Linked DNA regions of Homo sapiens: all the other regions are linked to region 2. The links come from fine-mapping of genetic effects on plasma protein levels. A gene starts in region 2. Each other region holds a variant in brackets. All regions are shown on one strand. Distances are from middle to middle.

Region 1 (4,568 bases), 590 kb after region 2:
TAAGCTTTGGGTATAGAAGATTTAATTTTAAAAAAGAAAAATATCCTCACTCTTATGGAAATTATACTCTAGTGGCATGAGATGAGAGAAGGTCAGAGGAGACACTTCAATAAGTAAGATATCTGGTGTGTTAGATATTGATTAGTGTTTTGAAGTAAAGACAATGGGTAGAGAGTGTCATCTTTGTCCACTTGGACTGCTATGCGGAATGCTGTAGACTCGTGGCTTTGAACAACAAAAATTTATTTCTCATAGTTCTGGAGACTGGAAGCCCAAGAACAAATCACCAACAAACTCAGTATCTGGTGAGATCCTGCTTTCTGGTGCATAGATAGCCATCTTCACAATGCATCCTCACCTGGTAGAAGAGGAGAGGGAGCTCTGTTGGGCCTCTTTTATAGGAGCACTAACCGTGTTCATTAGGGCTGCACATTCATGACTTAATTACCTCCCAAAGACTCCACCTCCTAAGACCACCACACTGGGGATTAGGATTCAACATATTAATTTGGGGGAAACATAATCATTCAGTGTGTATCAAGTGTCAAGGTCATGGCAGAGGAACAGTGGCTTGCAATTTTAAATTGGATCTTTAGAAAAGCCCAAAACAAGAAGTGGATTTTTGAATAAAGACTTTTAAAAGTTAAGAAAAACAAGTGAAAACCATTTAAAAGTTCTTTTATGAAACTAAATATATTCTTACTATACAATCCAGAAATTATGCTCCTTGTTATTTATCCAAACAAATGAGAACTCACTCATGTCCATACAAAAGCCTGCAAACAAATTGTATAGCAATTGTATTTATAATTAGCAAAACATAGAAGCAACCAAGATGTTCTTCAATAGATGAATAAATAAACAAGCTGCAGTACATTCATGCAATGAATTATTAAGGAACTAAAAAAATGAGTTATCAAGCCATGAAAAGACATGAATGAACTTTAAATGCATATTGGTAAGTGAAAAGTCATTCTGATAAGGCTGCATACCATATTTTTCCAACTATCTGACATTCTGGAAAAGGAAACCTAGGGAGATAATAAAAAGGTCAGTGGTTGCCAGGGCTTTTGGAGAAGGTTGGGAGAAATAAGTAAGTGGAATTCAGGAATTTTTAGGGAAATTAAACTATTCTGTATAACACCATAATGGCAAATACATGTCATTATACATTTTTCAAAGCCTATAGAGTTTACAACACAAAGAGTGGGCCCAAGTGTAAATATATAAACTATGGACATTAGTTGATATTATATCAATATTGATTCATACATTGTATCAAATGAACTGCATTAATGAAAAATGTTAATAATAGGAGAATGGGATTGGAAGGGTTGAGGAACTGTATGAGAACTCTATATACATTCTACTTCATTTTTATGTAAACTGAAAACTCCTCTAAAATGTGAAGTTTATTAAAAATAATTTTTAAAGGTGAAGGCAAAATCAATTTGGAGAATCAGTTCAATGGAATTCTAGCCAAAGGGAAGAACAAATGCAAAGACCCTGAAGCAGAACCTGCCAACATGTCAGGAGTGAGGTGTGGCTTTGGTCTCAATTCTTGTGTCCCCTCAAAATGTATATGTTGAAACCTAATCCCCAGTGTGACAATATGAAGAGGTGGGGCTTTTGGGAGGTAACTAGGTAATGAGAGATTAATAATTTTATAAGAGAAACCCAAGAGAGCTCGCTAGCCCCTTCCACTATGTGAGGATGCAGAGAGAAGTAACTCACTAAGAGGAAAAGGCCCTCAAGCAGACGCTACATGTGTTAAGTGCCTAGATTTGGGACATTCTAACCCCCAGAACTGTATGAAATAAATTTCTGTTATTTATAAATTACTCAGTTTATGGTATTTTTGTTATATGCAGCCCAAGAAGACTAAGGTGAGGATCATGAAAGGTTTTTTAGCAGAAGAGTGACATAATTTGGCTTAAATTTTAAGTGAATCATTTTGTCTTCAGTGCTGAGTGTATTGTGCAGTAGGAGCTGGTAGAAAGCAGGTAGGCTATTTAAAATAATTCTGGAGAGAAATAATGGTGACTTGAACATTTGGACCAAAATCTTTGGCCTGAGTAACTAGAAAGATAGAGTAAAACTTTACAGAGATAGAAGAAAATATGAAAATTAAACATTGGAAGATAAAAGGAGAAATTCTTTTTTGATTGTGCTGCTGAACTTGAGACACCTAATAGACATCAGCATCAAC[G/A]TATTGATTAGGCACTTGTATATTCAATTCTAGGTAGCAGTCTGGCAAGAGTTATAAATTTAGTAGCTGTCCAGTGTAGTCAGTAAGGACCTAAGAATAGAAAAAAAATAATGTAGATAAGAAAGAGATTTAGGAACTGAATCCTAGGGTGCATCAACATTTTGGGGTTAGGTAAAAGAGAAGAAAGCTACAAAAGGAACTCCAAAGGAGGAGCTAATGAGATGGAGAACAATCGTGTGTCCCAGAAACCAAATAAAGAAATTATTTTAAAGAAGATAAATAATTGAAAAGCTATTGGAAATGCTGCTGATTTTCAATGATGAACCCATCAATCCTTTCCTTGACCCATGGAATTTTCAGTGATGGGTCAAGGAAAGGATTGAGTATAAGTTATTGGTTTTAGTTATGTGAAAATAATCAATGATATTGAAAATAATTTTACAGGTGTGTTGGAAAGAAATCTTGATTGTAGAGGACTCAAGAAGGAATTGGAGTTTAAGAAGTAAAGATAGCCCAAATACATAACATTACAAAAATGTTTTGCTACCATATGACATGTAGAAATGGGATAGCAGCCATAGTGTAATATGGAAACAACAGAGGTTTCTGTTTTTGATTTTTAGATGGAAGAAGAGAAAGATGGCTAAAGTGAAGTTGTTTAGTAGGTTTGAGGTTACTGTGAGAAAGTGGATGGGTTAGTCTTCACTATGGTCTTTTATCTGTAATAACAGGAAGGAATACAGACTGTATAGTGACAAGTATAGCTAGATAGGAAAATGTCAAAGTGCGAACTTGTGAAAGTTATCTTCTGATTGCTTTTATTTTTTCAGTGAAACAGGAAGCAGTTATCATATCAGAGTAAGGATGAAGTGATAGTGGTTGGAAGTTTAAAGAGAAGAAAGCAAGCAGGAAAATGCTTGTCTAGGAGAGTAGGGATGTAAATAAGTGAGTAAATGTAGAATGGTGCGGGAGGCCATTGAGGACTCACTTGAAATTTGTGGCCAGAAGCAGAAGTAAAATCAGTTAGCATGGATCATTTTTTCAATAATATCCAACTAATTGGGTATAGGAATAGAGAATGTAAAGAACTGAATTTAACTAGGGTTGTAATTTTTTCAGATAACTTGGAGAAATGAAAGAAGGGATAAATATTGGATAAATATACAGGGCACAGACTATAGGAATGGACCATATATTAAACAGTAAACCAGAAGTGAGCACATTTCAGGGGTGAGGGTCAGACAGAAGATATTACAGTCAATTACTTTTAGGTCCTGTTGAAGTTGAACATTTAAGAGTTGATGTATGAGAGAAAGAACTGGAGAGAAAGAAATGACTATGTAAAGTGGCATACTTTAAGTTGAGATCTGGGGAGACTTCCAGTCTTTGGTATTGGCAAAGTCTAAGACAAGCTATGGGGGTAACTGTCTGAGGTGGGGTGGAGGTCAAAGCATTAAAAAGAAGAGGTCAAAGAACTGTTGGGGGTGTTCTGATCTGGCACTTAAAGAGCTTGGAAGTCACCATTATGCCTTACAACAAGTAAAAGGCTGAACAAACTGAAATCCACAACTTTTCTTTGATCTCTCAGAAACTTGAAGTCACAAGGAAAACTGTTGCCTCTCTCACCCAAATTGTTGAGACAGAAAGGCAGATAAAGATAACCAAGTTTACCAGACGGGAGACCCACTAGCAGAAACCTTTGTGAGAACCAGCAGTGGGGCAGGAAAATCTGAACTACAATTGATGAATTGTTGGACGCTCAGTGTGAACAAGTCTGGAGTTAAAAACTCCAGTCTTAGGGTATAGGCTTACATTTTTGTGCGTTTTCCCTCCAGTAGCTTCCATCAGGGAAAGGAAAAAAGTAGCCAGAGCATTCTGTTCTCCAGCAGGCCTGCCCTCAGGAAAATCTATTTTACCACCTACACTATTGGGGTTTTATCAGAAGCTAACTGACCAGGGGGACGGGAATTACCCAATTCCAGCCTCCTCTAGCCATCTGGTCTTGCCTAAGAGGGGAAAAATCTGAGAAGCACTTGTGAGGATCACAACCTAGAGACACTGGCTCACTAAGAGGCTGAGACCTAATCATAGGATAATAGAATGTTTCACCTCAACCCATACTTTATCACTACATTATTTTTTAAATTATATTTTAAGTTCTGGAGTACATGTGCAGAATGTGCATGTTTGTTACATAGTTATACATGTGCCATGGTGGTTTGCTGCACCCATCAACCCGTCATCTACATTAGGTATTTCTCCTAATGTTATCCCTCCCCAACCCCCACCCCCCGACAGGTTTGGTGTGTGATACCCCCCTGCCCCTGTGTCCATGTGTTCTCATTGTTCAGCTCCCACT
Region 2 (4,568 bases):
TTTTAAAAATATAAATAGGGCCAAGCATGGTGGCTCACGCCTATAATCCCAGCACTTTGGGAGGCCGAGGCAGGCAGATCACGAGGTCAGGAGTTCGAGACCAGCGTGGCTAATAAGTGAAACCCCGTCTCTACTAAAAATAAAACAAAATTAGACGGGCGTGGTGGCAGCTGCCTGTAATCCCAGCTACTCAGGAGGCTGAGGCAGGAGAATTGCTTGAACTCAGGAGGCAGAGGTTGCAGTGAGCCAAGATTGTGCCATTGCACTCCAGCCTGGGTGACAGTGCGAGACTCTGTCTCAAAAAAATAAACAAATAAATAAAAATAAAAATAGAAATAGAATGAATACACTCTAAAATAATGATAAAGAGTATAATATAGCAAATACATATACCAGTAACATAGTCATTTATTATCAAGTATTATATCCTGTACATAATTGTATGTGCTAGACTTTTATGAGACTGGAAGCACAGTAGGTTTACACCTATGTAGCCACAAACACGAGTGGTGTTGCTCTACAACTTTACGTTTACTACAATGTCGCTAGGTGATAGGAATTTTTCAGTTCTGTTATAATCTTATGGGACCATTGCCAAATATCCAGTCCATTCTTTACCTAAACTTCCTTATGTGGCACATATCTGTAATTCAAGACTGTAATTCAGTCTCCACCTTTCTACAGCATTCTTTCTAAAACACGTATGTTCTAGTCTCTTATCTTCAATTCATAAAGCTTAAGTGACTCCCTATTGCCTACAATACAAAGCCTAAATTCTATGCATAGCCTACAAACTACTTCATCATTTTACCTCAATCTTTTTTGGAGAGACAGGGTCTTGCTATGTTGCCCAGGCTGGTCTCCAACTCCTGGGTTCAAGCCATCCATGCACCATGACCTCTGAAAGTGCTGGGATTACAGGCGTGAGTCACCGAATCTGGCCAAAAATCGCTTTTGCAAACTTACTGAAGGCGATAGTACTAATAAACCTGTCTATTATCAGTATGTGAGCAATGTTGCTGTTTGAAGCTAAATCAACGAGAATGTAACATCCTACTCTTCACTAAAGGATGCAAGAGGAGTCATTACATTCAAAGAAGCAGGCTGGATTTACAACCCAGGTGAAAAACTTCATATAACGAGTTTGAGGACACAGCGTTTTACATTTTTTTAACTTGTAGTTTCCACAGAAACAGAACCTTAAGTTGGCTAGGAGTCAAGATTGTATTGTTCCTAACAGAACCCTAAACGGTGTTATTAATGGAACAGTGTTCCTGATGGAACATGGTGAAGACACAACACACTTTTCTCCTTTTGAATGATAGCTGCTTTCTTTACAATAATTTCCACAGCCCAATTCCTTCCCACTCCTGTATAAACATCTGTGATACCCAGCTCAAAGCTGATTCCAGCTTCCCCTATCCCTTTCTTAGACTCATTCAGCAAAAGCCAGTACCCTATTATATAGTGTTTTCTCTTACTGAGACGCTCCCGATTTCCCATGGTACTGTTTGCCCTTTTGCAAACTTTGATGAGTTTTTTGACACAAGACGCTTATCTGTCATTGCGTTTGCAAATATGCATTCAATAGCTTGGAGTAGAGAGAGAAATGTATTCATAAATGGCAAATATATTCATGTTGCCAAACAGCAACATAAGCAACAAAGTACGTGTGAGCACTACGGTCTTACATACTAAATCTCATAAGCCTAAAGAATCTACTGCAAATCCCTCTTTGAAAGATGGGGGGGAGGGGAAAGTAGCGTAAAGTGATGACCCAGAAACTGCGATCTTCCAGGCAAGAAGAGCGCCCAGCCGCACCGCACTCGGACCGAACTCCTCGCGTCTCACCTCAGGCGTCCTAAAGGCGGTGCGCATGCGCAGCGCCCGCCAGCCACGCCGCGGTTCCTTCCTGCGCCTTTATCTGCATCCGGGTCCGTGGGATTCGCGCTCCACTGGTCAGCTGGGGTCGCTCTCGGGTGGTTGGGTGTTGCTTGTTCCCGCTGTTCCAGCATCGAAGAACCATTGGGTCTGCCGGTAAGTTTAGCGGGGGGTGCGGCGGGGGCGCCAAGAAGGGGACTCGGGTCGGGGGACCCGACGGCAACTTCGCCCTGTGCGGCCTTTGTGCTGAGACTGGGACGCCGGGCCGGGGCGGAATGGGTGCTCAGGAACCTCGAGGCTGGGGGCGCGTGGGGTCTCCCGTATTGCCACTCGCGGACCTGGTTGTCCTCTCCGGATTTGTGCCTACGGGAGAAGGCGTCCCTGCCCTCTCCTCTCTCGCGGCTTCTTCTTGACACCTCTCTCTACACTCGTTAAAAATTCCTAACAGTCATCCTCATTTGCATTCGCTGTCCTTTGCCAAGTGAGGGCCAGGCAAACGCGCAGCTGAGGGGAATCTGCAGCCCCCGCCTCCCGGGCAGGAACCACAGCCTTCTTTGCTGTCTCTCGTCCCTCCTCGGGTCGGTCCCACACGCGCGGCCAGGCCACCCTTACGCTTTCAGGACAGGTCAGGTTGAGTAGGGAAAAGCTCAGAGCAGAGGTTCTGCAAGTGTAGATTCTGGTCTTGGCCCCGCCATTAACTAGCTGTGTAACTTCACGGGTGTAGAAGTTGTCATCCACCATTGAAGTTTTGCGATTTATATTCAGCAGCCCTTTTTCCTAGCGATGCACATCCAAAATGAATCAGCACCTGAAGGAAGACGAGGGAAAGGGTGGTGCTCTGTTGTTTTTTGATGCTGTCTTGTGATGCCAGAGAATTGCATAAGGCGACAATAGTTTGGATCTCTGAGGATTGGCAAAAACTGGAAAAGTCAAATCTTAAAAACTTAAATGTGGTGAAGAAATTCTTCTTTGCTCTGGGTGAAGGGATTCATTTGGGACTTTTGGAGGTGACTCTGCGCCCTCCAGAGAGTTTAAGAAAACAAAAAGTTGCCTGTACCTTGGTCTGAGAGACTTGCTTAAACTTCGTTTCAGTGAGATGTGTGGTGTTCTTAACAAATTTCACCTGATTATGAATATCCCCTGTGATAATTTGCAAAAGCAGAGATTCCTTGGACTTCATTTCAGATCTTTTGAAACACTGTGTCTAGGGAGAGGGACCTGAGAATCTGTATTTTTAACTAGCATCGTAAGTGATTCTCAACCGGTAAGACATCTTTGGCTAATGTCTCTTTGAGTCAGAAACACTTAGTTTTAAAGCCAGCTCCCCGGGCCACTTTTTAACGTCAGCAATAAACTTCTCGTAGTTGCAGTTTTCTGTATATGAAGAGTGAGAATAATGCTTTCAACCTCAGAGACAAGTGATTCTAAGCCCTTTGACAATAGAGTTAATCATTTTTGTGTCTACAGAACCTAGCATAGTGCTTAGAATATAATAGGTCTTCAAACGTGTGTTGAACTGAGAAAAATAACATGCCCAGGATGCAGAAGACATTGGAAAGCTCTAATGCTTCTCGTCCTCCTTACCTTATTTTTTTTCCGTTTTATTAACAATCAGCTGGCCATATATTCTTGTTAGAAGTAAATATATCTTTTGATGTTCATTACAGCCAATAATTCTTTCTGATTCTTTGGTTTAACTCTAAAATTGTTTTTGACATTAGATTATGGATTATATTTAAGTGGAGGCTGAGTCCAGTTGTTGGACTGAATTTATGACTTACTATGTAATTTATTTTCTGTAAATAAATAATTGTTATCGGGCCAGAATTCTAGATCATGGTGACCATGATTTTTTGTTGTTGTGTCAGAATTCGAAACTGTTACCTTCTTAAAGACATTTAGATTCCATACATTTATTTTAATAAGACCTTTTAATCTCATTAATTTAGAAAATTTGACTTATTACTCTATGTAAAGTGTGTGGGTACAAAACTCAGGAATGCTGAAACCATGTTATAAAAAGCTTGGTATTGGTGACTGATCCATTTAATATAAAAATAAGAATTAAAAATCTAAGAATTATGGGAATTATTACAGAATGTTCAGTAAATGTTATAAGGGGACGTTTATAAACTATTGATGGTAATGTCAGTTCAACTTCTGTAGAAAAAAGTATGAAGATTTCTCAAAGAACTGAAAATAGAACTACCATTTGATCAGGCAATCTCACTACTGGGTATCTACCCGAAGGAAAATAATTCATTATATCAAAAAGATACCCGCATTCATTTTTATCTCAGCACTATTCACAGTGAGGCAGTAGAATAGGGTCTGGAGGCAGAGGACTTAAGGCCAATTCGTGCTGACTTCCTAAAGCTAAATCAAAGGAAAACACCAAGGTCTGGGGGCAGGAAATCTAAGGCCAATTTGTGCTGACTTCCTAAAAGAGAAAACACCTGCGTCTGGGGGCAGGTAACCTAAAGCCAGTTAACCAATTAACGCAAACTTCCTAAAGCTAGACCAAAAGGAAAAAACCCATCTCCCCATGCCCAAGTAGCAAAGGACCAAAGGCTACTCTCCCTACGATCGACTGCCTTCCACCACCTCTCAGATGGAAGGGGAAAGTGCCTTGGATTGTCCGTGGACTAAGCATGGGCCATCCCTTCATCTGCATAGGGAGCCAATTC
Region 3 (4,568 bases), 590 kb after region 2:
AAAAGAGGGAATGGCTATTAGAGAGGCAAAGGATATACACATTATACTATAAATATAATAGCCAAAGGATCACTCAATCTATCATCCACCTATATATTTATCTATCTACATATGTATGTGTGTATATATATGAGGTGTTGTGTGTGTGTGAATGTGTGCATATATATATATACCACCTCTCAGAGAGAGAGAGAGAGAATCCTAAATAATTGTCAGTTTCTGACTAATGTGACTGGATAGATGATCATCAAAATAAGGAACAGTGGAAAGACAGATTCTGGAAGAAGGATGAAGGATCAATTTTGAGCACATTGCATTAAGGTTCTTGTGGAACACTGAAGTGAAGGTGAGAAGGAGGAAGAAATCCAGGATGACTTTTGAGTTCATATATTGTCTAACATGGTAGATGGTCATGTCTTATTAACTGAGATCAGGAACATGTAAGAATGACCAAGTTCGAAAGTAAAAATAATTAGCTAATTTAAAACATAGGGAGTCTAGATACCTGTGATGGTTAATTTTCTGACTGTGCCACTGAGTGCTAAGATGGAACATTATTTTTGAGTGTGTTTATGAGAATGTTTCTGGATGAGATTTGCATTTGATCTGTAGACTCGTTAAGGTAAATTGCCCTCTTCAGTGTAGAGGGACATCCTCCAATCCATTAAATGCGTGAATACAAAAAAAAGGCAGAGGAAAAAAGAATTTGCCCATTTTGCTTCCTGACTGCCTATTTGGGCTAGGACATTGATCTACTGCTGCTGCCAAGAACTGGGATTAATACCATGGGCTCGCCTGGCTCTCAGGCATTCAGACTTAAACGGAATTACAGTACTGGCTTTTCTGGGTCTCCGGTAGATAGCAGATCATGGGACCAATGTACTATTCGTTTTGTTTATCTGGAGAACCTTAAGACCAATTTCTCTCTCTCTCATGATAAAAAAAAATGTAGGTAGGTAGTCTAAGTTTAAGAAAAGAATCACTAAACCAACCTGAGTGTACCTTGATAATGGACTGTTCTCCAGCTTTTAATGTTAAATATTAGAGACAAGGAGCAAACTTGCAAATTTTCCTGTTATAACCTAGTATGTGAGACACAGTTTGGTTATTTGGACAGAACTAAACTTTTCTCTATTTCTAATGTTAAGTTACTTTTATCCTCAATCTACAGATGAAGGAACAGACTCAGAGATGCTAAGTAGCCAGCTCAAAAATCAGACAGGTAATAAAAGACAGACACCTATCTTCTGACTAAATCCCATGCTCTTTCTTTGTAATTTACTTCCATGCTAGAGTTTCCAGCTACAGGGATGAGGTGCTGGCGGAAGGGCAGTGCTGAGAGGTGAGAGGATTGAGCAAAAAGGGCTAAAGTATAGGGTATAGTGAAAAATAAATTATTGTAGAAGCTCACAGTGTTCAGGGGCGATGAGGAGGGATTAATTAATTATTTATATAATGTGTTTTCTAGAGAATCTATTAGGAATATTTCTTTATTAAAACTATCAATGTATTTTTTGTGTGTGTTCTAAAGCAGTTAAGGAGAGGTAAAGTTTGTATTTCCAAGATGCATGTATATATGTGTGTGTGTGTGTGTGTGTGTGTGTGTGTGTGTGTATCTATAAATTTTTAAATCAGATAGTGACTAACTTTCTATAGTCTTCTAAGTCTTCTGTTAAGCTCCAAGACTTAGCCTATGTATATTCACAACTTTCATAGAAATTATTTTTTTTGTAACAACATTCAATGTATAACTTTACTTTTACTGTGAGAGACTGGTAGAGTAATAATTCTCTGCTGACTAGAAAACTACTATTTTCATACATACAAAAGCTACTTTTTTATGCAGCCAGAAAGACATGATTTGAAACTCTAAAGTATTGATAAAAGCCTATTTTATAACGCATTATCTCCCTTCTGCCAAAACAACACCTATTCTCAAATCTTAGGGACGAATCTGTTGGAATTTGTAATACATTTTCAACTATAATTACCCTTCTAGAAACATGGCG[T/C]ATGTCATGCTTTGTGGAATGGCCATATTTTAATAATAGCTGTATCTGAAGTAGTACAGTATTTGTTATGGCAAAGAAAAGTCATTTCTATGTATTGCAGTTGTAAGTATATATACACTAAGCTTTAAAGTTAACAAAAAACCTATATCAATTAAAAAAATTATCTGGCTATGAAATTAAAATAATTGAAATATCTGTATTAATGATATCAGCATCATTTACAAAGTTGTCACTTAGCAATTGTCTGAAGTGACTTGCTTCAAAGTAATTGGAGATATTTGAGGGAAAACAACTAAATCACTTAGAATTTGTTGGCAACCAAAATAGATTATAACTAATTAATTTTAGGGCAAAAGTGTTCATTCATCCATTCACGAATTCATCTATTAACTCATTCTTTCATTTATTCAGCACACATTTGAGTGCCTTTTTTGTACCACACATTTGTACTGTTCAATAATGGTTTTAACCAAGGATAATAGCACTCACCTAATGGGAATGTAGAACTTTGACTTGGAGTCTTACAAACATGTATTGGCTTGGGGCCATGAACACTAAGTGTTTTACAAAGTTAAGAACATTTCACTGGGAGCTTGGTGCAGTGGTTTACCTGTAATACCAGCACTTTGAGAGGCCAAGGGAAAGCAGATCGCTTGAGCCCAGGAATTTGAGACCAGCCTGGGCAACATGACAAAACACCATCTCTACAAAAAATACAAAAATTAGCCAGGCATGTTGGCATGTGCTGTCCCAGCTACTCAGAAGGCTGAGGTGGGAGGATCACCTGAACACAGGGAGGTCAAGGCTACAGTGAGCTGTGATCATCCCACTGCACTCCAGCTTGGGTGACAGACTCAAATAAAAAAAAAAAGAGAGAGAGAGAGAACATTTTACATAAAGAGAAAATTTTCCACTTCAAATTTTAAGTTAATAACACTTACATTGAGAAATGCTGTGTGTACATTAAAGAGAAAAACATAGCCCTTAACTTCAAGGGACAAATAGCCTAGTGGAAAAAACACAGGCACAGACCAAAACGTCTTCGCTTATATGGCAAGTGCTCTTATGGAGAGACTCCTAGGCTGTTACAGAGTCACAGCCCAGCAGAGAGGTAAGAGGGGGCATAAAAGCTTCCTCAGGAAGATAGTCTCTGAACTTAAGTTTTGGAGAGCCATAAGAATTAGCCAGCAGGAGAAGAAGAATAACAAGTACTCCAGACAGAAGAACTGAATAGCAAAGGCAAGGAGGCACATGGAGAATGGTGAGTGTGTTCTGGAAGGTATGTGGTTGCTTGGCTTTTCATAGGATAAGTGCAGAAATGATAGGAGGTAGATCCTGACAACATGAAGGACAGGTCATGAGGTGACTTATGTGTCACAGGAAGCCTTAACATTTTAGTTAAGCAGGTAAGTCGAAGTGGCAAGATTAGTTCTAAATGTTAGACAAGCATCGTTGTGATGGTTAAATTTGGGGCGTGAATATTGAAGATGGTGAGGCCAGATAAGAGGCTGTGGTTCCTGGACTTTCTGTGGTCCCTCCACTCTCCCTTCCTCCAGACCATACCTTTTGTATTCCATCTTTTCTTTGTGGTTTGCAGATGTCTGAGAAGACCACCAGCCCTTCAGGGAAAATGGAAAGAGAAACAAAAAGAAGGAGGTAACAAGAACAAGTAAGAATCTGGAGATGAAGCTCCAGCAGAGTTGGCGGGGCGGGGTTGGGGGGTGTGGGGAATTACAAAAAACAAGAGTCTGGGGCAGTAAACCATGTGAGGAAAGGTGAGACTTTACCTAAAGCAATGGAAGGAAGAAAGAGTGAAGGAAAGCGATTTGTGAAAATACCATAGATTTCCTTGCCTTTTGCTATGTACTGATATGCAAGGAAGCCTGGTGTCAAAGTAATGCTTTTTCAAGGACTTTAAGAAGGTCTATCTTCCCTAAATATATGTCTTACTGTTTCCTGTTGTCTGAAATACCTTTAGCACCAGTTGAGTAAATTTAGTTCAGCAGAACAGATTGGAACCGAAATTTATTGACTTGGATAAAGCAGTATATCAAGTTTAGCTAGTAGAAATAGGAAGTGTTGCATCAGTGAATTTAGGGGCGCATACCCAGATTACAACCTTATGGAAAATCAGGGCAGGATAAAAAAGGAGAAAACTGCAGAATGCTTGCATTTTTGTGATTACAAGAGTGAAATGAGCCAAGAACAAAGAGCAAGTGAAAGAGCATGTCTCACTGAGCCTCAACCACCCATTATTGCACTTGCAGTGACTCTACCCACAGGCTAAGAATATTATGCTAAACAAATATGTATAAATTAATTTAATAGAAAACATGGGAAAATTTGCACTGAAGGATTATTATTATTATTTTTGGTGAATAAAGAATAAGATAATTCTTGGATGGCCTTGGGCTGGATCAGTGGAATTTTACAGTCTAAGTTTTTGAGAATTTGAGACTTGCAGATCTGATGGAATTGCCTAACTGACTTAATAATTATAAGCAAACAAACTAATACTTTAAGAATCCATATTGTAATACCTAAACTACCGTATAGTGT
Region 4 (4,568 bases), 240 kb before region 2:
TATCTTCATCATGACATATCAGGCCCTCCCAACCTTATCACTTATTTTCATGTATAGAGAAAGGAAGAAAAAGAGAGAGGCCTATTTTAAATTCCTTGATCCATTCAGTCACAGAAAAAGGAAGTAACCATTCATAAGAGGAGTCTTCCCACTTAGACAAAATATACACACCAATGTGGCTCAGTCAATTGTTATGAACTTGAACTAACCAAATTGGCATGTCCTCTTTCTTTAAAGAAAATAAAATCTAGTCAAGCAAAGGGGTGAGTTGTTGTGAAGAGGGACTGGGGAATAATCTTTCTCTATAAATCAAAGCTGTCAAAGACATGAGATGCCTCAAAAATATTAAATTAGAAATTGGAAGACCAACTTAGGAATTCTGAGGGAGAAATGCCTGCAGTGATATGGCACTAAATTTAATGTTCTTAAGAGGGCATATGGGAGAGGCAGAGCACATAACCAGTGGAAGGCTAGGGCTAAGTGTGAGTGAGGGAAAGAAAGTGGCAAGGAGAATACAGAGAGAGCAGTCTAATGATCAACATTAAACACAAACACAAAACATATGTTGATCAATCTACAGTTTTTTTAGCAAGAAGTTTTCAGGTCATTAAAGACCTCAATATTTTATGAGAGTCACAAATTTTATTGCAAAGCATATTACACTATTCCAAGGATTAAGCTGATAATATCTTCACTGTTTTTAGTCACCCACAAAATTATATAGCCCCATAGGAAATAAACAGATTACTTTTCACTAGTCAAGAAGAGAACGTGCAGATTCCAGTTTCTTTGACAGAGGTACATTTCTGAAAGGACTGGCTGCTCTTCAGACTCTTATAGAATGGAACAATTCATATCACCTCTGGGATGAATTGCAATGATGTTAGGACTTTAAAACAGAAGAGTGCCCATTGTTACCTTACTAATGAGTAATCCCAGGGAAGCAAAATCAGATTAATCATTCAACTTCTCTTTGAAGAACTCTCAAGGGAGCTCTGCTTAAGGAAGAATGCTAGAAAGATCATGATGGAACACTCATATTTGCATTATTCTACACAAGACAAAACAAGCTACCAAAGTAACAATAGAACCTAGCGTCAAAAGTGAAAACTGCTCTAAAAAGGGGTGGAAGTGACAAAGATGAGTTGTTATATTTTCTTTGCATTTGGGCTGGCTCTGTTTTCTCATTTCAATTCCTTCTTGGAAAAGTGGTAGCTTAAGTGCTGTGTGTGTGTGTGTGTGTGTGCGTGCGCGTGTGGTTCACGCCTGCATGTGTCTATTCCTAAGGCAATCGTAGCCCATTCACTTTAGTGACTCATATTTTGAAAGGCACCAATTTTCTTTTTCTCTTTAATAGGAGGGTGCCTCTTTTCTTTGGTTTTTGACCTCTTTTATGCCATAGGAAATGTGATTTTTGGACACACTGAGATGGAACTATTATTGTTATATTGTTGGGTAGTAGTGATACAGCTGTGGACCATCATTAGGCTAAGATGTTTTAATAACCATACATTTTAAAAAATAGCCATTTGAAAATAAGGCATAAGAAAAAATTTCAGCATATTTATCACAAGATGTAAAATCTTTTTTAAACCAGTAGTATCATCAGTAATTGATATCTAGTTGAACAATAGAAACATATGTATTACTGTGGTAATATGTGATTAAAGATGTTTTTTTCTTAGTATTCATTGCCAAAATCTTTAATTATTAACTTTTTGTGTATTGAGACAAACTGACATCTTAAAATTGATCTACTGAAGCCTTTCTTTCTTTCTGAAAGATGTGTGTACATTCTTTTTTAAGTAAAATTCGACCATTTTTAAACCATCTGTTAAGGCAAAGTATGTTTTTCTCTCACAGGCTTACTACATTTTCTGTCAATACTCACTCTTGTCTTCTGTGACTTTCTGTCCCTGGACTATCATCATTTTCTCTTAGGGAAACTAATACAGACAACTGATTTAGTTACTAGGCCTGCTATTACCACTTGACTTTAATTCACATAAAATAATATGCTTTTTACAAATGATTTTAAATCAGAATTTCAGGTCAAGGGAAGCATATTTGAATGATATGTGTTTCATCATTATCTCTTCATAATTTTTAGGCAATTGCTGAGAAAATTTAAGATATATATTGCATGCTAAAATACATATTGCATGGTAATCTTAAGATTATCTTCCTGGTATTCTGCAACTTGGTAAAGGGTAATTAA[T/G]AGTACTCAGCCTCTCTTATAGATACGTTTTACTAACCCAAACAGTTGGTAGAAATGACTTTTTACATTTTGTCACAATCCAGTAATAGGTAACATGGTTCAGTGTATGTAATATGAAGTAGTAGCTACTGATAGCAACAGGAGACAGACAAATTCCCAGGTAGACAGGGACAGACCCAGTGAAACCTGACCTTCGAGCCAAAGACAGTTTAAAACCTGAAAACCGAGCTGCTAGTTCCAGATAGAGTTCAAGACCAGAGTGAAAACATCTATCCCTTGTTGGAGGCCGAAAGACTGAGGGTCGTGATCAACTCAGTATACCACTGGAGGCTATATGACTAAACAGCAAACTGTTCTCATAAACACAGAATGTTGGCAAACTGACAAACTACATCTGCCACCCAGAAAGAATGCTGAGGGCAATCATGCCCCAAGTCCAATGTTTCTTGTGATTAGGTACATCTGAAGCCTGTTAGTAATAATATGAACCTGTGATCAATTAAGCAGCTGACCAATCATTACCTCCTCCTCCTTGCTCTTGTTACCCGATAAATATGAAGGGCAGTGGAAGCTCAGGGGCTGCCTTTGCCCACTAGAAGCAGGGAGCTCTCTTCTTCCCCTGGACCTTTCCTTTAAAACAGTCTCTTTTGTTTTTTATTATCATTTTCTATGTTCATCCCTTTGTTCAGTCTTGTAATGATGGTCTCAAGCAGTAACAGTAGTAACTGCTGTAATGACAGCCTCAAGCAGTAACAGTAGTAACTGCTGTAATGACGGTCTCAAGAAGTAACTGTGACAGTCTGCCACAATCCCTGTCTTACTCTCTTTCTCTATTGTTTCCTTCTGGATGATGCCTTTTAACCAATCAGATGGTTCTTTTTCCAAGACCACCCATACATTCCCCCATTCTAAGCCCATAAAAACCCTGGACTCAGCCTCACAGATGGCTACCTGTTTTCAGGGTCCCCTCTTGCAGCTGAGAGCTTTTCTTATGTTACTCAATAGCATTCTTCTCTGCCTTAGTCTCTCTCCCCTGTCTGCATACCTTATTCCTCTTGGTCATGGGACAAGAACCTGGAACTCACCAAGCTGTGGGCAGTGGGAATGAAAGAGGTGTAACCCTCCTGTTTGCCAAGCTTCAGGGGCAAAAAGGCCTCTGATTGCCACTCCCTCCTGCTTGCCAAACTATGGGAAAGAAAAACCTGATGAGTCCCACTCCCTCCCACTCACTGAACTACAGAAAAGAAAAAGCCACAATATTTTCATGATGGAAAACAAGATGAAATTAGTTCAACTTGCAAGAAATAAAATCTTGAATGGATAAAATTATAACTATTGTCCATAAGAATTGTTAAATGTTGCAAAAGGCCAGAAAAAGAGTCAGTCAGGGTGCTTAAAGAAGTAACATGTAAAGATTATGAGAATCCCATTTTCCTATACTTTTTAAATAATGTATACATTTTAGGAGTTTTTCATATCCAAGAACCTTTAATATATGTTTTGAATAAAACGACTTATTTTTCTAGAATAAATTTAGTTTTAAAAAAGGAATTCTTAAATTAATACAAAACATAGAATATCAAGTATCATTAGCCATAAATAGAAAGTAATTAAAGTAAACCAATGCAGTGAAAGTGAAAAAATGTTATTTACTTTATTTACTTGAGTAAAGAACTATCACAGATAATTACATTAATATCATTTTGTGTTGGCTTTAGATCTCAAAATATGACAAGTATTTACATTGGCCCTAATTCTTAATTGCAAGCCACCAGGTAATCTTGATTAAGTTTCTCAGTGAGCAATCTCTATAAACTCTTCTGAAACTTGCATTGCTGTCTCTAAACACTTACCCATAATGTGGTCATTTCTTTTTCAGTAAAGTGATAGCACAGGTTCTCTTATGGTATTAAATAAATCTTCCAAAGAAGAAATTAAATTTTTTCCAAGATGGTAGATTAGAGGATTTTAGCATGCCTCAACCGTTTGGAAATAGCAAGCAATACATAACGATAAACTCTGTGGGGTTTAATTCGAGAAGGAAAAACAGGAATCCACCAGAATTGTGAATAAGACCCCAGATCCCAGGGAGGATGAAGGAAAACAGCTCCCGTGATGACATCCAGCTAGTAGAAGTGAATGAAGCCTCAGTATGTGAGAGTGGCAGAGAGCCTCCCTCTGTAGCTTACCTTTCCACTGGAGACCTGAGCAACCCAGGCCAAGGGAAAGCACTTGGTCTTCTTATAAGCACTGGAGCTAACAGGGGGATAGGATTGGAGACACTGTGAGGAAAAGACAAGGAGGAAAGCTGCAAACATGTTCTCACACCAGGGATTTAGGGCAAGATGCC
Region 5 (4,568 bases), 75 kb before region 2:
TGATATTCGCTGGTGGTTATTATGTGAAATACAAAGATCCTCAAACTTCATTCACTCCCATATGTTCAACCACATACATTTATCCCACATCTTCTTGTCCATGATCTTCCAATCTTTTTCCATGAATGTGTGTGTGCATTCTAACCTTGGGTCACTTCTCTTTTCATACTAAGTCAAGGCCTGGATACATCACAATCACTCTCTCCATTGGAAAGATTTTTTCTGTACCACAGTTTTTCAAGGCATCCTTGAGTAAGGTTATAGCATAGCTGGTATCCATATTTGGCCTATACTTACATACCAAGCTGACCCATCTGGAAGCCAAACTCAGAAATTTTTCATTTTTTTAAATTTTAGTCCTACAGTATGTCATACAGCCATAGAAATGAGCTGAGAAAGAAATGCTTGTACTATTACTTGTGGGAGCCATAGGGACCTCAACTACCTGTTTATGCAAATTTCTTGTGTCCTCTGAACCTGTTTGTGCTCAATCCTGGATATCACACTTTCATCTTATAATAGGGTTACTGTTGGTATTATCTGACTATGGCTTAGTAACACTTACAGGACCTAGCTCATGATAGTTCTGTCCACATGGTCACTTGCAGTCCCATGGTCAGGCCTGGTAGCTTGTCAAGAGTTATTTTTCAAAAGACATAATATTCCCTGGTTTTATGGCATTTCTCCATTACCCCAGGAACCTCTCTTGTGCTTCACACAAAATCAACATGGTCCCATTTCCTATCACTGATACTTCCAACATGTAGGTTCCAACAGATTGCATAGTTCAAAAAGAAATACTGCTTATATCACAGCCTCAGTCTGCTCAGAGCTCTTTCCTGCTCCATCCATACTCAAAGATAGCAACTTTTAAAATTTGTTTTGTCACTCAGCATCCAGGCAAAGCAGTATCCCTAGGTGTTAAATAAGCTGTCTCCAGAGCATAAAGTAGCCCACAAAGCACTGTGCTTTCTTAGTCATGGCAGAATAAGAAGCAATATGTAATAATTTAACTTTGACTTTGGACAAGGATGTACTGGCAGCCTCTGGCCACTGAACCTCTAAAATTTTACTCAAGTGGTCAGCCCCCAAATCTTTTAGGGTTTATTTCCTACTCTCTGGAGCAAATTTGTCTTACTGAGCCTGCAGCAAGACTAGCCATCTCTTGCTCATCCAGCCAGATCTACATATTATTGATGCAATGAATCAATGTAATAGTCTTCAGGATATAAAAAATGGTCCATATCTCTTTAGACTACATTGTGAAAAGAGAATTAACATAGTCCTGGAGAATAACTATATACCTGAGGCCATATTAATCATTCTAGCAAAGATACTTTCTTTGGCACGGTAGTTGTAGTTAGAGCTACTATTTACTTGAGCTTGCTGTAATGCAGAGTCATTCTACAGGATACATCTAGTTTCTGTAGTGGCCAAACTGGTAAGTTAATATTATATGTGATAAATATCACCATCCCTTCATTTTTTAGATTCTTAATAGTAACTCTATACTCTCCATCTATGCCCAGTTTTTCACTGTGCACTATTTTTTTAAATTTATTATCTTGGCTGAAGGCAGAGAGGGCATATTCAGAAGCTTTCATTAGGCCATTGCCCTGCACTCCAAGGACCAAAAATGCAATAGTGCCATCTTACAAGCATCTAAATCCCAATTATATAGTCAGGATAAATTAATATATAATTCAGGGTAAATGATTACCATGGGTTGTGAATGCACAACCTCAGTGACGTTTCCTCCCTGCAACTGAGCCTGGCCCAAAGGAACTGAATGTAGGAAATTCTTGGTTGGCTACCATCTTCAGGGTTGGGCAATAATTCCTTCGTTGAAGGGGGAATGGAGTTGCACAGCTCCTTGTCTACAACAATAGATTAAAATTCAGATGTAAAAGTAAACAGACAACTAATGAGAGGAGAATAATGTAATAGGGAAGAACAGGCTTTCAGAAATCAGCAATTTGTAGTTTCTAAGGGGAAAGAGATGATGCAATAAAAGTCCAGTTAGGAGCCAAGATAATCCAACAGATAAGAGAGTTGTATCACTACAATTGTCAGTAGCAAACAAAAGCAACACTCCACCTCCCCCTAAAATGAAATGTGATTTGTATAGATATCAGCTTCAAAGTAATTCCCCATGCTCTTTTTGCTACCTTTTTGCTGCTTTTGAACCTCACTTATAAAGTCTCTTAAGCCAAAATGGTTTGTAGACCATAATCAGAAACTTAAATTTAATTCTAAACATTAAGAAATACCAATTCAAAAGTTTTTTGTCAGAGTAGTGATATGATCTGATTTATACTTTTACTAGTTCTCTTAGGCTTCTCTATCAAGACTGTATTGTGAGGGGAAAAGAGTAATAAGTAGGCATTCCAGTTAAAAGACCATCACGCAAGAGTTCTGGAATAACAAAATAAGTCAGCTCCAACATAAGCACAAAAAACACTTGCCCAAAAAATGGTCAAAATCAACTTTTTTTACATTCTAGAAATTACCAAAGGCTTGCAACATTACAAGGAGCATTTTTTTGAAGAAAAATAGCTGAGTCTTCATAACGACAGCCAGTTTTGTGGCATGTTAATTTTCTCTATTTGCATCCCCCTTGCCACAGCTCTGCAATATCCTTCAA[A/C]ATAATCAGTCTTGCAACAACAGTAGCTGTAAAACTCAACAATCTAGCAGCTACTGGAGAGGGCACTAGATCATCCCCCTAAGACTTACATACAAATATTGTTACTGTTTGGCATGTTTGGCAGCTCCCTAGAGAATTCTCATTCACAGAGCTTGTTTTTGTTTTATGTAATTCAGTATTCACTCAGTGGTATAAGCTCTATACCCAAGACATTTGTCAGAAACAATCAGTGGTAACTGTTTATCACAGCCGATTAGGGCAGCAATACCAATTGGAACAAACAAACAGAAACTAACCAAAAACTTTAGGTCTTAAAGTTCTAAATCTTTAAGGAATATGGGGAATAAAATGTTCTTAGGAAGACATACATCTAGAGATCTAGAAGGCCATGAACATGTGCAGGGCAATGTGCTTGCCCAGGAACAGTAGGAAAGGCCATAATCTCTCACCTCTGGCTGATGATGAGACTCTACAAAGCAGGATGTGAAGACTAAGGTAGAGTTGTTAATCAATGAAATCTTGAAGGCATACACTGACACACACTGTGTTACAACATAGCAACAACAACAAATATGAAAGTGAGGAATTCTGATGTCAACATTTTTCATATTATGCAATTTAAAATATCTAGTTTTCCACAAAAATATTGTGGCATACAAAGAAAGAGAAAAGTATGGCCTATGTATAAGCAAAAATACATTCACTAGAAGATATGCCTGAAGAAGCTCGGATGTTGGTTCACTAGACAGAGACTTTTAATGAGTTAGATATACATCTGTATGTGTGTACACATATATAAACATATTTTTCAAGTACTAATAAAAACCATGTCTAAAGAATTAAAGATATGTATAAGAACAATGTCATAATAAGGAAAATCAATAAAATATAGAAATTATTTAAAAAAACAAACAAAAATTCTGGAGTTGAAAAGCATAATAAAATTTTGAAATTTTATTTTGAAATGAAAATTTACTAGTGGGGCTCAACAGAAGAGTTGAGCTGGTGGAAGAAAGAAATAGCAAACTAGTATCTATTTTACTAGAAATAGAAAGATAGGTTAGTTGAGATTATCTAGTTGTATTAGTCCATTCTCACACTGCTATAAAGAAATACCTAAGACTGGGTAATTTATATAAAAAGAAGTTTAATGGGCTCATGGCCACAGGCTGTACAGGAAACATGGTGGCATCTGCTTCTGGGGAGGCCTCAGGGAGCTTTTACTCATGATGGAAGGCAAAGTGAGAGCAGGCGTCTTACATGGCAAGAGCAGGATTGAGAGAGAGGGGGGAGTGCCACACACTTTTAAACAACCAGATCTTATAAGAACTCAATGTCACAATGACATCACCAAGGGGGAATGGTGTTAAACCATAAGAAACTGCCCCCATGATCCAATTACCTCCCACCAGGCCCCACCTCCAACACTGGAGATTACAACTGAACATGAAATATGGATGGGGACACAGATCCAAACCATATCATTCCACCGCAGCCCCTCCCAAATATCATGTCCTTCTCAAATTGCAAAACAGTCATGCCTTCCCAACAGTCCCCTAAAGTCTTAACTCAAAAGTCCAAAGTCTCATCTGAAACAAGGCAAGTCCCTTCTTATCTATGAGCCTGTAAAATAAAAAAAAGGTTAGTTACCTCAAGATATGAATGAGGTACAGGAATTGGATAAATATTCCCTTTGCAAAAGGCAGAAATGTACCAAAAGCAAGGGGCTACAGGCCCCATGCAAGTCTGAAACCCAGCAGGGCAGTCATTAAATCCTAAATATCCAAAATAATATCATTTGACTTCATTTCTCACATCCCAGCCATGCTGATGCAAAGGGTGGGCTCCCAAGGTCTTAACCAGTACTAGCCCTGTGGCTTTCCAGGGTTCAGCTCCCACAGTTGCTCTCATGGGCTGTCACTGA
Region 6 (4,568 bases), 83 kb before region 2:
AACATAACATCATAACAAAAAACTAGACAACCAAGAGCAAACACTCCCCAATGCTTGCAGAAGACAAGAAATAACCAAGATCAGAGCTAAACTGAAGGACATAGAGACATGAAAAACCCTCCAAAAAATTAATGAATCCAAGGCTGGTTTTTTGAAAAAATTAATAAAATAGACCACTAGCTAGAATAATAAAAAGAAAAGAGATAAGATTCAAATAAATACAATCAGAAATGATAAGGTGGATATTACCACTGATCCCACAGAAATATAAACAACCATCATAGAATATTATCTCTGCACATAAACTAGAAAATCTAAAAAAATGGATAAATTCCTAGACACATACACCCTCCCAGGACTGAACCAGGAAGAAATTGAATCCCTAAATAGACCAATAACAAGTTCTGAAAATTGAGGCAGTAATAAATAGCCTATCAATCAGAAAAAAAAAAAAAAAAAACCCAGGAGCAGATAGATTCACAGCTGTACTCCACCAGAGGTACAAAGAAGAGCTGGTAGCATTCCTACTGAAACTATTCCAAATAATTGAATAGGAGGGATTCCTCCCTCATTCATTCTATGAGGCCAGCATCACCCTGGTACCAAAAGCTGGCAGAGATACAACAAAGAAAGAAAACTTCGGGCCAATAGCCTTGAGGAACATTGATGCAAAAATCCTCAACAACATACTGGTAAACTGAATCCAGCAGCACATCAAAAAGCTTATCCACCACAGTTAAATAGGCTTCATTCCCACGATGCAAGGTTGGTTCAACATACGCAAATCAATAAATGTGATTCATCACATAAACAGAAATAAAGATAAAAACCACATGATTGTCTCAATAAATGCAGAAAGGCCTTCAATAAAATGCAACATCCCTTCATGTTAAAAACTTTCAATAAACTAAATATTGAAGGAACATACCTCAAAATAATGAGAGACATATATGACAAACCTAAAGCCAATATCATACCGTAGAGACAAAAGCTGGAAGCATTCCCATTGAAATCCAGCACAAGACAAGGTTGCCTTCTTTCACCAATCCTATTCAATAGAGTATTGGAAGTTCCTGCCAGGGCAATCAGGCAAGAGAAAGAAATAAAGGGTATTCAAATAGAAAGAGAGGAAGTCAAATCAGTTGGCATGTTCCTATATCTAGAAAACTCCATCACTGTGTTTCAGCCCAAAAGCTTCTTAAGCTGACAAGCAGCTTCAAAAAACTTTCAGGGTACGACATCAATGTGCAAAAATCACTAGCATTCTAATATACCAACAACAGTCAAGCCAAGAGCCAAATCAGGAATACAATCCCATTCACAATTGGCACAAAAAGAATAATCCTACACAAAAAGAACAAAGCTGGAGGCATCATGCCAACTGACTTAAATCTATACTATAGGGCTACAGTAAACAAAACAGCATGGTACTGGTATAGGAACAGACACATAGGCCAATGGAACAGGATAGAGAACCCAGAAATAATAGTGCACACCTACAACTATCTGATCTTCAAAAAGACTGACAAAAACAAGCATTGGAAAAAGGTTTCTCTATTTAATAAATAATGCTGGTAAAACTTTCTAGCAATATGAGGAAAATTGAAACTGGACCTCTTCTTTATACCATATACAAAAATCAGGTCAAGATGGATTAAAGGCTTAAAGGGAAAACCCAAAGCTGTAAAAACCCTAGAAGAAAACCTAGATAATATCATTCAGGACACAGTCACAGGCAAAGATTTCATGACAAAGACACCAAAAGCAATTGCAACAAAGGCAAAAATTGACAAAAATTGATTAAACTAAAGAGTTTCTGCACAGCAAAAGAAACTATCAACAGAGTAAACAGAGAACTTACAGAGTCAGAGAAAAAATTTTCCAACTTTGCGTCTGACAAAAGTTAATATCCAGCATCTATAAGGAACTTAACAAGTTTACAAGAAAAAAAAAATTAAAAAGTGGGCAAAGGACATGAACAGACATTTCTCAAATACATACATACATATATATATAATATATATACATATATATATTATATATGTACATATATAATATACATATATATGTATATATACACATATATATGTATATATATATATACAACCAAGAAACATGAAAAAAATCTCAATATAACCGACCATTAGAGAAATGAAAATCAAAAACACAATGAAATACCTCACATAAGTCAGAATGGCTATTATTAACAAATCGAAAAACAACAGATGCTGGTGAGGTTGTGGATAAAAGGGAATGCTTTTACAATGTTAGTGGGAGGGTAAATTAGTTCAATCATTGTGCAAGACAGTGTGGCAATTCTTCAAAGATCTAGAGACAGAAATATTATTTGACACAGCAATGTCATTACTGGGTATATACCCAAAGGAATATAAATCATTTTATATA[C/T]CCATAAATTTTTTATTTTACACCCAAATTAAAAAGACACATGTACATGTATGTTCATTACAGCACTATTCACAATAGCAAGAACATGGAATAAACCTAATGCCCATCAATGAGAGACTGGATAAAATGTGGTACATATACACCATGGAATACTATGCAGCAATAAAAAGAAACTAGATCATGCTGTTTGCAGGGATATGGATAGAGGTGGAGGCCATTATCCTTAGCAAACTAACACAGGAACAGAAAACCAAATACTGCATGTTTTCACGTATAAGTGGGATCTAAATGATGAAAACCCATGGACACATGTAGGGGAACAACACACACTGGGGCCTGTCAGAGGGTGGTGGGTGGGAGGAGGGACAGGATCATAAGAATAGCTAACGGATGCTGGGCCTAATATCTAGCTGATGGGATGATTGGTGCAGCAAACAACCATGGCACACATTTACCTATGTATCAAACCCGCACATCCTGCACATGTACCCCTGAACTTAAAAGTTGGAAATTAAACAAATAAAATAAAATACAGATGAACAAAAAATAATCGATTATATTTCTGAAAGTTCCCATAACAATTGACTAGAAAATAAAAATGTTAAAGGACATACTATTTACCGTGGCATCAAAATTATGTAATATAGTAAATCTAGACCAGATGTATAAGGTTTCTACATTGAAAACAATAAAACATTATTGAAAGAAACTAATAAATACTTATATAAATGTAGGGGTATAACGTTTATTTTGGAAAGACTTGATATTATGAAGAAATAAATCCTTCAATTCTTCTAAAACTTCTCAAAAGGTCATTAAAGTTACAACAGGATGTGTGGGTGTGGAGTGTGGTAGTGTGTGTCTATCTTTACAAATTATCTTAAAATTTAAATTGAATGTAACAGACTCAGAATAGTCAAAATACTATTCAGACAGACAAAGACAAAAGAATTATCACTAAAACAACTGGAAAAAATATTGGAAAAAATTAAATGTACTCGTGTCACATCATAAATAAATATCAAAACTAAGTATAATATAGGTGTAAATGTAAAAGACAAAACTAGAAATTTTCAGAATGTATTATAAGAGAATATCTTTATGACCTTGGAGTAGGATAAAGCTTTTTAAACAAAACACAAAAAACACTAAACCAGAAAAATTTTTTAATTGGACTACATGAAAATTAAAAACTTATAGCCTTCAAAAGATATAATCAAGGGAGATAAAGGCAAGCCAATGTACGGAAGAAAATATCACACACATATATGAATATATAAAGAATTCTACAAATCAAAAATAAAAAGCTAGCCAAAATAAGCAAGACAGTTAAACAGTTACTTCATAAAAAGGACAGTCCTAATGGCAAATAAATACATGAAAATATTTTAATCTTAGAAGTAATCAGAGAACTGAAATGAAAATCCCAAAGAAATACCACTAGAAACCCATTAATGACTAAAATTGAGACTGAAACATTTTAACAGGGATATAGATTAACAGAAACTATCACACAATGCTGGTGCAATTATAAACTGGGACAACCATTTTGAGAAGAGTTTGGAGTAAACTACTAATATTGAAAATACGCACATGCTATAATAGAAATTCCACTCCCATCTATATAACCAAGAAAGATGTGGACACGTGCAGCAAAAGATGTACACAAAACTGCATATTATTTACAAACATTTCAAACTGGAGAAAGCCCAAATGTCTACCAACATTAAAAAAGAGGAAGATCAAGAGAAGTTGCTAAATGGGTACAAACGAGCCATCCAATTGAAGAAATAAGAACTAGCGTTAGATAGATCAGTAGAGTTAATATAATTTGCAGTCATCTATTATACATTACAAAGTAGCCTTTTGAATTTGAATACAATTTTGAAATAGAATTCAAATGGTTCTGGTATAAAGAAAAGTCAAACATTTAAGGTAATGGATATCCCAAGTACACAGATTTGATCTTTACCAACTATATGAATGTATTAAATTATCACATATATCCCAAAATTATGTACATCTATTATGCATCAATTAAAAAAATAAAACAAAATGGATAACAATTTGTGCAATAATAAAACAATAGAATACTATGAATCAATGAAGGTGAACAAACTGCTACAAGCAACAACATGGATGAGTCTCACTAAACATAAACA
Region 7 (4,568 bases), 12 kb after region 2:
CTGTTAATTACCTCTTTAAAGTTGACAGTTTACCACATCTTTCAAAATGAGTAATATGTTTCTTTACCTAAATGATAGCTTCTTTTTACTATTTCTTTAAAACTCTAGCCAGCCTACTTATCAAATTACAGAGTTTAAACGTTTGCATGAGGAACAGGTGGATTTTAGTAGATTACTTTAATTGTTTCATCTTACTGAGTAATCAGTTAAGAATGATGTAAAACTTTTTACTTACCAGCCTTAAGTTAATATGAGTTAAGCTGTATAATTGTCATAATAAATTCCAAAATTAATGTTTAATTTACCAAATTCCACTTGTAATTTATATATGTGTGTGTATATATAATCTACAGTTAAAAATAAGTTTTTTCCTTTGTAATGACAACGTGGTTTTCTATTATCAGTGTAAACTATCGCAGACAGCTAGCTAATTGCTATAAGAATAGTTCAACATCAACTAAACTAAAATCAAAATTTTTTGCCAGATTCTTTAATATTCAACTAAAAATACTAATGCTGTAAATTATCTGTATATAACTTATTATTAACTTAATAGAACACTGATCAAAATTACATGAATTTGATCTTCAATAGAGCTGTCCTGAGGTTAATTTATACTTGAAGTGGCCAAGTATGGTTGAGATAGTTGATTATCATTGGGGGAAATTTGGTTTTAAAGTCAGACGTAAAATTGTATCCTGTTTTAGCCACTTAGTATCTGTATGACCTGGGAAAGTTTATTGAAGTTCAGTATAGGTACATCATTTGTAAAAGAGGATTAATATTAAACATTCCAAAATTTGTGAGAATTAATCATGTTGTAACATGTATAAAATGCCTTACACAGTGCTTGGTATATAGTTGGTACTCCATAAGTGCTACTTCAGTCTTCTCTTTCTCTCTCAACTGTAAATGCGGAAATAATTGTCCCTTAGAATTACTGAATTCCTTGGGATTTTTACCGAATTCCCTCTAGGGACATCCAGGAAGACTGAAATCTTCTCTTTAAGATAGTTTTTACTTCTACCTAGCAGAGTCAATAACATTTACTTTCTTGATAGAATGGTTGTTTATTGGAGCAAGAAACCAAGTTAGACTATTGCTTTTCAAATTAGAAGGTTATCTGTTTTAAATAAAATTTACTAATATTACTTCAGTAATCCTAGAGAACATTTGCATACTCCTGCTTTGTACGTATGACTCAATTTTGAGATAATTAACCATTTGTACCTTCCAATATTCAGGCTAGACAGTAGATATTTGAGAGTGTCTGAGGGGTGCATAGACCATCTAATCTTTAGATTTTCTAAGCTCCACACCAAAATCTGGTAGAATTACTGGAGTACCACATACTTCAACTGCTTATATCAAAAAATGTTTTCACTCATTTACTATAATGCAAAAAAAGGCTCTTAGTTGTTTGAGGTTCATTATTAAAAGTGGCTGCTTGAAAATATCTTCATTTGTAGACTTTCTTTCCCCCTTGTTAATTTATTGACCTTACATAAGTATGCATGTGACAAATCTCTTGTAGACCCAAAGGTAGGAAATAGATTTTACTATGGGGAATAACACTGATAAGAACACTTGATTTTATTCCTTTGCCTGCCTTCCAGAAAGCATTCATAGCATAAAATAATGTTTAAGCCTGTAATTCTTATCCAAGATGTCTGGTAGAACTTTCCTCTTTCCTTATAACTTTAAATCATTTCGTACTTCTTTTCAGCTAATTTTTTTTGGGAGGGGGTTATGTTTCTTCAGTATAAACCACCTCAGTTCTCCTTTTGAAATAGATGTTGCATAAGTTATAATTATATATGTTTATCACTGACACCACTAAAAAGAATTTGACTTGGTTTTTTAACCAGTTTGTCTTAAGCTTCCTGTAGTTGTTTCCCCGCTCCTCCCCGCTCCCAAATATATTTTAAGAGAGTTCCTGTGCCTCTTACATTAACATCTTCACTGTAGTCATGGATGATCCAATGCCTGACATTTTATATGTACCATCTAAAGGACATAATTGTGCAGAGAGAGAGAAGGATTATTGCATTTTCTTTGAACTTTTCCTTATTTGGGATGCCCTATTATTGGATATGTATTCATGAAAGAATCTCATTTGTTGATCTAGGTTTATCATCATTGGATTTTTAGATGAGGATTGGCATCTGGGTCTTACAACTACCCTTCTTTTGTTCCAGGGTTTGG[T/G]TAATAAAAACTCTAAGAACTGTGCCAAATGGGATCAAAATATCAGCTTTATTAAAGGTAAAGTTGAAATAGAGATTGCAGTTTGGGCTTGAAGCCAGAATGGGGTTTTTCACTCCTGCCCTTTGAATTGGAAACAGTAGAATGAGAAGAGCTCAAAAATGTTAATCTGCTATTGCTCATTCCAGGGAATTAGAGCAGAGGTCCCTTTCCTCTGAGGGAAGAGGGAAAGAAAAAGGAGGAAATACATACTCAAATGTTCTAATTCCTCCTCTGATGGCAAACGTGTTCAGAGAAAGGGTAAAAGGTGTATCATGCAATTCCTGACTTAACCCCAGCAATAAGATATACAAACATGGATTTTTAAAAATAAAATCTAGGGCTGGGATCCGGTGGCTCACACCTATAATCCCAGCACTTTGGGAGGCTGAGGTGCGCAGATCACCTGAGGTTGGGAGTTCGACACCAGCCTGACCAACATGGAGAAACCCCGTCTCTACTAAAAAAAAATACAAAATTAGCTGGGCGTGGTGGTGCATGCCTGTAATCCCAGCTACTCGGGAGGCTGAGGCAGGAGAATCACTTGAACCTGGGAGGCCGAGGTTGTGGTGAGCTGATATCGTGCCATTGCACTCCAGCCTGGGCAACAAGAGTGAAACTCCGTCTCAAAATGAATAAATAAATAATTTTAAAAATCTAGTTTTACAATAAAATCTAAATATATAAACTTTTAAAATATCTTAACGCAGTAGTGTCTTGGGTTTTTTGTTGTTGTTGAGACAGAGTCTCGCTCTGTTGCCCAGGCTGGAGTACAGTGGCTTGATCTTGGCTTACTGCAACCTCCACCTCCCAGGTTCAAGCGATCCTCCTGCCTCAGCCTCCTGAGTAGCTGTGACTACAGGCACTTGCCGCCATGCCCGGCTAATTTTTGTATCTTTAGTGGAGATGGGGTTTTGCCACATTGGCCAGGCTGGTCTCGAACTCCTGACCTCTGGTGATCCACCTGCCTTGGCCTCCCAAAGTGCTAGGATTACAGGTGTGAGCCACTGCACCCGGCCTAATAGTGTTTTTAAAAAGTAAAAATAAAAGAAGACAGTGGAGAAAATGTTAACCTTCTGATTTGGTTGCATGCTTGGATTCTTTGCTTTGGTAGAAAAAGGAAATAACTAATGGGATCAAAAGTAAATTAACTGGAATGATTCTAGGGTAACTCACAAACTGAAGGAAAAGTTAAAACAACCAAGTCTTTGGAAAAACAGAGAACCTCAGATCTCAGAAGTAGAAACTCATCAATCTTCTCCCTGCAGTGCTGTCATCCAGTGCTTCAGTTCACCATGCTGTCTTCGTTAACTGTATCCCTGGTCAAGATTCAGATCCAGACAGATATTTTGATTGGCTCAGCCTGAGACAAGTGCTTATCTCTAGACCACAGTCACTTTACCTAAGAGGGATATAGGAAATTAAAATTGTTCCAGCCCCTCTGGTGAGGGGAGCAAGGCAGAAGAGAACAAGGTGGGAGGTGGAATAAACTATACCGAGCTGACCAAAGAATAGCAACCATACATTCATTTATCCAGCCATTATTTAATAAGTGCGTCCTATGTGTCACTTGTTATTCTAAATGGTAATATAGTAATGAAGATAAAGCCCTTACTTTCATGAAGAGTGCATGTACATTCTACCCTTAGAACTGTAGGAACACAGGAATGACATTTACTCCAGACAGTGAGTTTTAGAGATGTTTCATAGAGGTGCTGATATCTTAATTTAGACTTAAAGGCTGAATAAGAATTAGCCACATTTAAAAAAATAATTTTATATCAGGAACCTCAGTTATTCATAGCCAACAAGCAAATACCTTGACCCAGCTCTGTTATTAACCTTTGCTCATAATTTCAGCTTAGCTGTACACTTCTATAAGGCCCAAATCATCAGTGAGGTCAGTAGTAGTAGATCTTAGTAGACTTCATATTTTTTTCCTGAAGCTTGTATTTTCCTGATCCCATCCTTCCCTCTACACATATATAGAGAAATATAAATGTTAGGGATATGTATACCTAAGAGGAGAAACAGAACACTTTTACAAATCTAGATAATTTAATGTCTATAATTAATATATATTTATAAGCAGATACATACTTAATAGTAGAAACAGTCAATGCATATTAACCATATGTAGGTCTGGCCTTATGTCTCCATATTAAAAATTCATAAATTGTTGTACTTTGGCATTCTGTACTTGCTTCAATAGAGTATTCATTTCTTCATTTTTCAAAACTGGGTTACTCTTTGTCATATTTTATCTTCTTGTGGCCTGGGAAAATTTTGTTAAACTTGTGTGCTAAGTGTCAGTAAAATACAGATAT

Direction of the effects. Positions count from the first base shown, and alleles are read on the strand shown. Strength reflects both the effect of a copy and how common the allele is. Not every link is listed here.
With allele G in place of A in region 1, the plasma level of the protein whose gene starts at base 1,955 in region 2 is lower (moderate association).
With allele T in place of C in region 3, the plasma level of the protein whose gene starts at base 1,955 in region 2 is lower (moderate association).
As copies of T replace G in region 4, the plasma level of the protein whose gene starts at base 1,955 in region 2 goes down (moderate association).
For the plasma level of the protein whose gene starts at base 1,955 in region 2, C is the high allele of the variant in region 5 and A is the other (moderate association).
As copies of T replace C in region 6, the plasma level of the protein whose gene starts at base 1,955 in region 2 goes down (moderate association).

The links. PIP is the chance, under the fine-mapping model, that this variant and not a neighbour inherited with it causes the effect. Protein levels are from antibody-based Olink assays in UK Biobank. Linkage for the fine-mapping came from a reference panel and not from the study's own genotypes, which makes the PIPs less certain.
Region 1: its variant is fine-mapped to the plasma level of the GNPDA2 protein (UK Biobank, PIP above 0.99).
Region 3: its variant is fine-mapped to the plasma level of the GNPDA2 protein (UK Biobank, PIP above 0.99).
Region 4: its variant is fine-mapped to the plasma level of the GNPDA2 protein (UK Biobank, PIP above 0.99).
Region 5: its variant is fine-mapped to the plasma level of the GNPDA2 protein (UK Biobank, PIP above 0.99).
Region 6: its variant is fine-mapped to the plasma level of the GNPDA2 protein (UK Biobank, PIP 0.95).
Region 7: its variant is fine-mapped to the plasma level of the GNPDA2 protein (UK Biobank, PIP above 0.99).

The regions. Positions count from the first base shown.
Region 1 is chr4:44,137,988-44,142,555 of GRCh38, reverse strand. No RefSeq gene overlaps it. Among named protein-coding and RNA genes, the nearest start is that of LINC02475, 120 kb to the right of the region's middle. The variant G/A (reference allele first, on the strand shown) is at 2,210.
Region 2 is chr4:44,723,943-44,728,510 of GRCh38, reverse strand. It overlaps GNPDA2 (glucosamine-6-phosphate deaminase 2), which reads left to right and starts at 1,955. Exons shown (of 7, transcript NM_138335.3): 1 at 1,955-2,037. RefSeq lists an enhancer at 1,623-1,752 and a silencer at 2,245-2,539.
Region 3 is chr4:44,130,843-44,135,410 of GRCh38, reverse strand. No RefSeq gene overlaps it. Among named protein-coding and RNA genes, the nearest start is that of LINC02475, 120 kb to the right of the region's middle. The variant T/C (reference allele first, on the strand shown) is at 2,010.
Region 4 is chr4:44,962,304-44,966,871 of GRCh38, reverse strand. It overlaps LOC124900850 (a long non-coding RNA gene), which reads right to left and starts at 1,002. Exons shown (of 2, transcript XR_007058449.1): 1 at 919-1,002. The variant T/G (reference allele first, on the strand shown) is at 2,219.
Region 5 is chr4:44,799,020-44,803,587 of GRCh38, reverse strand. LOC105374440 (a long non-coding RNA gene) reads right to left here and starts at 3,318. Exons shown (of 3, transcript XR_925278.4): 1 at 1,721-3,318. The variant A/C (reference allele first, on the strand shown) is at 2,645.
Region 6 is chr4:44,807,134-44,811,701 of GRCh38, reverse strand. No RefSeq gene overlaps it. Among named protein-coding and RNA genes, the nearest start is that of GNPDA2, 83 kb to the right of the region's middle. The variant C/T (reference allele first, on the strand shown) is at 2,407.
Region 7 is chr4:44,712,290-44,716,857 of GRCh38, reverse strand. All of the region lies in intron 4 of GNPDA2 (glucosamine-6-phosphate deaminase 2), which reads left to right. Among named protein-coding and RNA genes, the nearest start is that of GNPDA2, 12 kb to the left of the region's middle. The variant T/G (reference allele first, on the strand shown) is at 2,206.